2 linked regions of the Homo sapiens genome follow. The protein of the gene in region 1 purifies or fractionates together with the protein of each later gene. This does not show direct contact. Each region holds a gene or a part of one and is shown on either strand. Other genes may lie near its edges.

The links. Proteins that work in one complex are often made in the same cells at the same time.
Region 2: the proteins of FGF4 (region 1) and UACA purify together in Homo sapiens (affinity purification with mass spectrometry; one large-scale study listed by BioGRID and IntAct). This does not show direct contact.

Annotation. Positions count from the first base shown.
Region 1 is NC_000011.10:69,773,113-69,776,859, reverse strand, and holds the start of FGF4 (fibroblast growth factor 4 precursor), read left to right. Parts: upstream 1-1,518; 5' UTR 1,519-1,775; coding exon 1,776-2,115; intron 2,116-2,732; coding exon 2,733-2,836; intron 2,837-3,374; coding exon 3,375-3,551; 3' UTR 3,552-3,747. UniProt on the Homo sapiens protein: Plays an important role in the regulation of embryonic development, cell proliferation, and cell differentiation. Required for normal limb and cardiac valve development during embryogenesis.
Region 2 is NC_000015.10:70,753,536-70,757,182, reverse strand, and holds part of UACA (uveal autoantigen with coiled-coil domains and ankyrin repeats), read left to right. Parts: intron 1-3,647. UniProt on the Homo sapiens protein: Regulates APAF1 expression and plays an important role in the regulation of stress-induced apoptosis. Promotes apoptosis by regulating three pathways, apoptosome up-regulation, LGALS3/galectin-3 down-regulation and NF-kappa-B inactivation.

The DNA of each region.
Region 1 (3,747 bases):
TGGAAAGACAACACAGCAAGTGAGGGATGGGTTCTAGGTCCCCTGCACCCTGCACCCTGCACCCTGGCCAACGATGTCTATTTGGCACCAGATCTGCAGGCTCATCTGGGGGACCCCAGGACCCAGAGGCAGCCGGGTTGCATCTCGAAGCTGTGAGCTGCAGCCCAGGAAGGTCCAGGTCTGGGTGGCGCTGCCCAAGCAGGCTGCAGGCCCAAGGAGGAACAAAGATCCTCTCAAGGGGTGCGGAGCTGAGGTTCCGGTCCTGCCAAAGCCACTTGATGACCCCCAAGTGCCCCCCTTTCTGCACCTCAGAGAAGAGCCCTCAAGCCTCCCAGGTCCCCTCCAGGGGCACGAATAAGCCCCAGCAGGGTTCTGAAGGGGTCCCAGGAATCTCCCTGTGGGGATGCGGTGGAGGTGGAGGAGGCTGCGGTGGCCTGGGGACATCTCTGGTCACAGGTGCTGGTGGTATGAGAGATGGGGTAGGCACCAAGCCCCCTGCAGCTGTGGCTAGGCGGGCCTGCAGGAAGGGCCAGGCAGGCTCCTCAGGGACCACAAAGAACAGGGGTTTTCACACCTAGGTGGGCCTGCATCTAGCTAGGACAGTCCCCATCAGGCCATAATGGGCACAGTGGGAGGTAGAACCATGAGTGAGAGAGGGGAGGCTTCCAGAGGCCTGGCCTGGGTCCCTGCTAGATTGAGGGCTCTGGCTATGGTACATGGATATTTCTGCTGTGGAATCAAAGGAGCAGGGGATGCTGAATATCCCCTCTGGCCCTATGCCCTGCTACCTGTCCTTTCACGGAAGGGTGTGTGTGTAGGGGGTGCAGGACCAGGCCTCCCTGGGTGCATCTCTGCCACCTTGCCCTTTGGCTCAGGTGGACCTCCACCAGGTATTCAGAACTCCAGCCCAGAAACGCGCCAAGCCTGTGGGGCCAAGACCTAGGGGGTGGGGGTGGCCTCCCTCCCGCCTGTAGCCAAAGGGTCCTCCCTTGCCCAGCCAGGCCCCGGTGTCGCTTACTGCTCTTATCCACCCCTCCTTCCCAGGCCGGTCCTCAAGGCCCCAGCAAAGGAACCAAGTTCCCGTGAGCCTCCGAAAGGCGAAGGGCAGGCAGCAGCCGCTGGCTTCTGCGCCCACTAGGAGCTTCGGATGCCCGAGTTAGGGCTGCGCCAAGGCGGCCGGAGCAGAGAGGGAGACGGGGACGGGGACAGGCAGGGACAAAGTGCAAGAGGCAAAACTGGCTGAAAAGCAGAAGTGTAGGAGCCGCCAAGGGGCGGGACGAACAGGTCCGTGGGCCGGGCGGAGCCAAGGGTGGGGGCCGGGGTCCCTCCAGGTGGCACTCGCGGCGCTAGTCCCCAGCCTCCTCCCTTCCCCCGGCCCTGATTGGCAGGCGGCCTGCGACCAGCCGCGAACGCCACAGCGCCCCGGGCGCCCAGGAGAACGCGAACGGCCCCCCGCGGGAGCGGGCGAGTAGGAGGGGGCGCCGGGCTATATATATAGCGGCTCGGCCTCGGGCGGGCCTGGCGCTCAGGGAGGCGCGCACTGCTCCTCAGAGTCCCAGCTCCAGCCGCGCGCTTTCCGCCCGGCTCGCCGCTCCATGCAGCCGGGGTAGAGCCCGGCGCCCGGGGGCCCCGTCGCTTGCCTCCCGCACCTCCTCGGTTGCGCACTCCTGCCCGAGGTCGGCCGTGCGCTCCCGCGGGACGCCACAGGCGCAGCTCTGCCCCCCAGCTTCCCGGGCGCACTGACCGCCTGACCGACGCACGGCCCTCGGGCCGGGATGTCGGGGCCCGGGACGGCCGCGGTAGCGCTGCTCCCGGCGGTCCTGCTGGCCTTGCTGGCGCCCTGGGCGGGCCGAGGGGGCGCCGCCGCACCCACTGCACCCAACGGCACGCTGGAGGCCGAGCTGGAGCGCCGCTGGGAGAGCCTGGTGGCGCTCTCGTTGGCGCGCCTGCCGGTGGCAGCGCAGCCCAAGGAGGCGGCCGTCCAGAGCGGCGCCGGCGACTACCTGCTGGGCATCAAGCGGCTGCGGCGGCTCTACTGCAACGTGGGCATCGGCTTCCACCTCCAGGCGCTCCCCGACGGCCGCATCGGCGGCGCGCACGCGGACACCCGCGACAGTGAGTGGCGCGGCCAGGCGCGAAGGGGCGGGGGCGGGGGGCAACGGCCGCCGGGCCAACCCGCTCAGTCACACTCTGAGACCCTCGGCGGGCACCTGCTCGGGGGCCCCGGGAACCGGGGCGGACTCGGGCTCCGGTCCCTTCTGACGCGGGGCTGGGGACGCAGACACTCTTGGCTCCGGCAGCCCAGCGCAACCCCTGAGGTCGGGCGCCGCCTCCCGCCTTCAGAAACTCGGGCTCCGAGCGCCGAATTCCAGCGCCTTCGCCCGTGGGCACAGGGCGCGCGGTGCAGCCACAGGGGGCCCGAGACACGCGCCCCGGCCTGGCCCAGGCTGGGGAACCGCTGGGGTCGGGCTCGCGTCTGAAGGTCCGGGACTGGGTGCGGCCGCCGGGGGTCCCCTACACAGGCAAGCTAATCTGAGCTAGCGCAGGCTTGGGCTCCGGAGGCCCTAGAGGGCAGCTTGGGCTCTGGAGGCCCTTGGGGGCGGCTGCGCCGGGAACCCTGGCCCTTTATCCCCAACCCCACCCCAGAAATAGGGTCCCCGGAGGCGAACAAGCCGAGGGGCGGAGTGGGCCAGGGATCACCTGCCCCGCAATGACCTGCGCCCCGCCCCCAGGCCTGCTGGAGCTCTCGCCCGTGGAGCGGGGCGTGGTGAGCATCTTCGGCGTGGCCAGCCGGTTCTTCGTGGCCATGAGCAGCAAGGGCAAGCTCTATGGCTCGGTGAGTACCGCAGGGGTCTGGCTAGGCACCTAGTTGGGAACAGCGGACATGGCTAGCAGGCTCGTGGCTTCTCCAGCCCCACCTGTGCCTGGGTCTTGGAGGGGTGGCAGGGTCACCAGGTCACGGGACCGGCAGGCCTCCCCAGACAAAGGAAGCAGCCCCAAGGCAGGAACAATGAGGTTCCTGCCATCCCTGAGTGGGCCCCTCCCAGACCGAGGAAAGGGCGCTATTGAGAGCCCTTCCCTTCTCTAGTCCAGAGGGGTAGGTCTCAGTGTTGGAACTGCGGGCTTGAGGCTGGACACGGAGGGAATGAATTCTCTGGCTGCTAGGTGCAGGGCAGGTGGTGAGAGCACCAGCTGTTGTGGGCTGGCCATGTCCCCTTCTCACCCTGTGTGGGTCTTGACACCTTAACTGCTCAGCAGAGACATCTCAGCCCAGGGTGGGGGGTGGGACAGAAGGGGGTTCTGACCCCTGGCTTCAGGCTGGGTACCTTGCCCAAGAGGTGCCCCAGCCCTGACACTGCCCTGCTTTGCTGCAGCCCTTCTTCACCGATGAGTGCACGTTCAAGGAGATTCTCCTTCCCAACAACTACAACGCCTACGAGTCCTACAAGTACCCCGGCATGTTCATCGCCCTGAGCAAGAATGGGAAGACCAAGAAGGGGAACCGAGTGTCGCCCACCATGAAGGTCACCCACTTCCTCCCCAGGCTGTGACCCTCCAGAGGACCCTTGCCTCAGCCTCGGGAAGCCCCTGGGAGGGCAGTGCCGAGGGTCACCTTGGTGCACTTTCTTCGGATGAAGAGTTTAATGCAAGAGTAGGTGTAAGATATTTAAATTAATTATTTAAATGTGTATATATTGCCACCAAATTATTTATAGTTCTGCGGGTGTGTTTTTTAATTTTCTGGGG
Region 2 (3,647 bases), on another chromosome or scaffold:
TGTGGAAATCTATGGAAAAATGAAATGGTTTCTTAAAAATTATAAATTGTAAGAAAAGGAAAAAGAGGAGAAACCTATGGATTACAAGAGATTTAAGAGATTAAAATGCATACTAGCCAATTGCCGTGATGGACTTTATTTAGATCCTGATTAACTACTTGTAAAAAGTAAAAGTTTATGAAACAATCGAGGAAATATAATCATCAGCTGGATACTTGATGATATCGAATTATTTGAAACATTTAAATGTGACAGTGGTAGTAATGTGGCTGTGTTTATAAAGAGTCTTTATCCTTCATTTTATTTTTTGGAGATGAAGTCTCACTCTGTTGCCCCAGCTGGAGTGCAGTGGTGTGATCTCTGCTCACTGCAACCTCCGCCTCCCGGGTTCAAGTGATTCTCCTGGCTCAGCCTACCGAGTAGTTGGGATTACAGCTGCCCGCCACCATGCCTGGCTAATTTTTGTATTTTTGGTAGAGACAGGGTTTTGCCATGTTGGCCAGGCTGGTGTTGAACTCCTGACCTCAGGTGATCCACCTGCCTTGGCCTCCCAACGTGCTGGGATTACAGGCATGAGCCACCTCGCCCAGCTGAGTCTTTATCTTTCAAAGAAATATTTTGGAGTCTGGGATTTCCTTCAAAATAATCTTTGGGTGGGTGGGGATAGTAAGTTGGGGGTATAGTTGCAATAGGATTGGTCTTGAGTTAGTAACTGCATTTGGGGCTGGGTACAGTGGCTCATGCCTGTAATCTCAGCACTTTGGGAGGCCGAGGTGGGCAGATCGCTTGAGGTCAGGAGTTCGAGACCAGCCTGGCCAACATGGTAAAACCTTGTCTCTACTAAAAGTACAAAAATTAGCTGGGCATGGTCATTTGTAGTCTCAGCTACTAGGGAGGCTGAGGCAGGAGAATTGCTTGAACCTGGGAGGCGGAGGTTGCAGTGAGCTGAGATCATGCCATTGCACTCCAGCCTGGGCAACAGAGCAAGACTCCATCAAAAAAAAAAAAATTGCGGCTGGGTGGTTCATGATGCTTATTCACTTTTGTGATACTGTTGTATTTAGCGTATGTCCTAAAATTTCTGTACTGTAATTAGAAAGAGCTAGTCACAGCCTTCAAGAATTTTAAGAGCTAGATATAAAAAATAAATGAATATGGCATGTTAACAGTTATTATAGAAGTCGGTATAAATTGCTGTGGGGGCACATAGAGTGTAGAGTGAGCCCATAAAAAGGTTGAAAGGTAGAGTGTGAGCTTGGGCCAGAAAGACAATTTCAGTGGCTTTCCAAGCAAAAGAAGAGCAAATGCAGTGGTATGGAGCTGTGAAATTATACAGCTGAGGGAGCATCAGATTTGGAAACTAATTCTGGTTTTATGGTAGAGGATGGCACAGATGAGGCATAGACAAATCTTCAAATAAGAATTCTATTGAAAATAGGGAGTTAGAGGGCGTGCAGCTTGGGGATTGTGGTAAAGGAAGGTTTTCATTCATTCTTTTTTTTTTTTATTTTTGAGAATAAGTCTCCCTCTTGTCGCTCAGGCTGGAGTGCAGTGGCGCAATCTTGGCCCACTGCAACCTCTGCCTCTCGGGTTCAAGAGATTCTCTTGCCTCAGCCTCCCGAGTAGCTGGTACTACAGGCTCCTGTCACCATGCCTGGCTAAGTTTTGTGTTTTTAGTAGAGATGGGGTTTCACCATGTTTGCCAGGCTGGTCTTGTACTCCTGACCTCGGGCGATCCACCCACCTCGGCCTCCCTAATTGTTGAGATTATAGGCGTGAGCCACTGCCCCCGGCCTCATTCTTTTTTTTTTTTAAACCTTGAATTAAAATTTAAATTACTTGACAAGTTTAGATCACTGTTCAGAGAGAACTGACTAGTCATGAAAGTTTCATCTTCAGAAATTATCCTATTAGTGAGTTTATAAGTTCATCTTTCTGCTTCTCCCTTCCTCTCTAGAATTAGCTAATAGCCAGCAAAATTTTGATTTTATCAGCCCTGTTTAACTTATGTTTGTATCTTTGGTAAACTAGATCCAAGAATAATAGATTTGAACGTTATAACATGTATTGTTTCATCACTATCATATGGAAACTTTTACTGTCCTGTTACAGTTTTGCAAATGTTTGTCCTGCCACCTAAAGGATACAGCATATTATTGAAATTTCCACCTGCACGTGCTTATTTATGCAAAGGAAGTCAAATTGATTTCTGTGGGGAATTTGCCTAAAAATGGATGGTTGAAATGTGCTGCCTGAAATTATAAATGGAACAATAGGATATAATACTCATTGCCTTATTTTCCTTAATCATAATACAATTAAAAGCTTTATATAGCTTTTATATCATTAGAAAAGATAATGTCTCTTCCAGGCTTAAAAATGTAGCCCCAAAACACAAGAATAAATTGGATTGTTTGTAGTCACACAAACAGTTTTGTCTGTTGGCTTTGTTTTATTGTCAGAAATCCTAAATATTGTTGACATTGACTTATTTTCAAATGATACAGTCTCCAAGATGATATGCAGAAGATGAACTGATGTAGCTGAGTGACCAAAGGCACTGGCAAAGGATCGATGAGTTGTATTTTTATACAGATGCTCCTTGACTTATTATGGGGTTATGTCTTGGTAAACCCAGTTTAAGTTGAAAATATTGTAAGTCGAAATGCATTTAAGACACCTAACCTACACAACATCATAGCTTAGCCTAACCTTCTTTAAACATGCTCAGAACACTTAGCCTCCAGTTGGGCAAAATCATCTAACACAAAGCCTATTTTATAAGAAAGTATTGAATATCTCATGAATTCAATACCGAATACTCTATTGAAAGTGAAAAAACAGAATAGTTGTACGGGTACTCAAAGTACATACAGTTTCTGCTGAATGCATGTAGCTTTTGTACTGTTGTAAAGTCAAAAAATCCTAAGTCTAACCATCATAAGTTGGGGACTGTCTGTAATTGAATGGGACCTGGCCAGGTATCCTTGAGAGAGCGCAGGTGAATGTCTCAACCAGTTAGGATAAATGACTGTCCCACAAAAGTCATACATGTTCATTGTAGAAAACCAAATATAGGCTGGGCGTAGTGGCTCACGCCTGTAATCCCAACACTTTGGAAGGCCGAGGTGGGCGGATCACTTGAGGTCAGGAGTTCGAAACCAGCCTGGGCAACATGATGAAACCCTGTCTCCACTAAAAATACAAAAATTAGCCAGGCATGGTGGTGGGCACCTGTAGTCTCAGCTACTCGGGAGGCTGAGGCAGGACAATGGCGTGAACCTGGGAGGCGGAATTTGCATTGAGCCGAGATCGCGCCACTGCACTCCAGCCTGGGCGATGGAGCGAGGCTCTGTCTCAACAGCAACAAAAAAAATTATAAGTAATTTGAAATTATTTGAGCACATACAAATGTCCCAATTAGAAGTACTCAGTAAATGCTAGTGAGTTACTTAGAAAGAAACTGCTTGTGAGAAATCCATGTGCTGATAGCCAAGATTTATTGAGCATGTATTTCCCAGGCATTGTTCTAAGTGCTAGTAACTCAATCCTCACCGCAACCCTAAGAAGTAGGTACTATTGCCATCATTTCAGATGCAAGTTAAATAATTTACCTGCCCAAGACACTATAGCTAATAAGTGAAGAG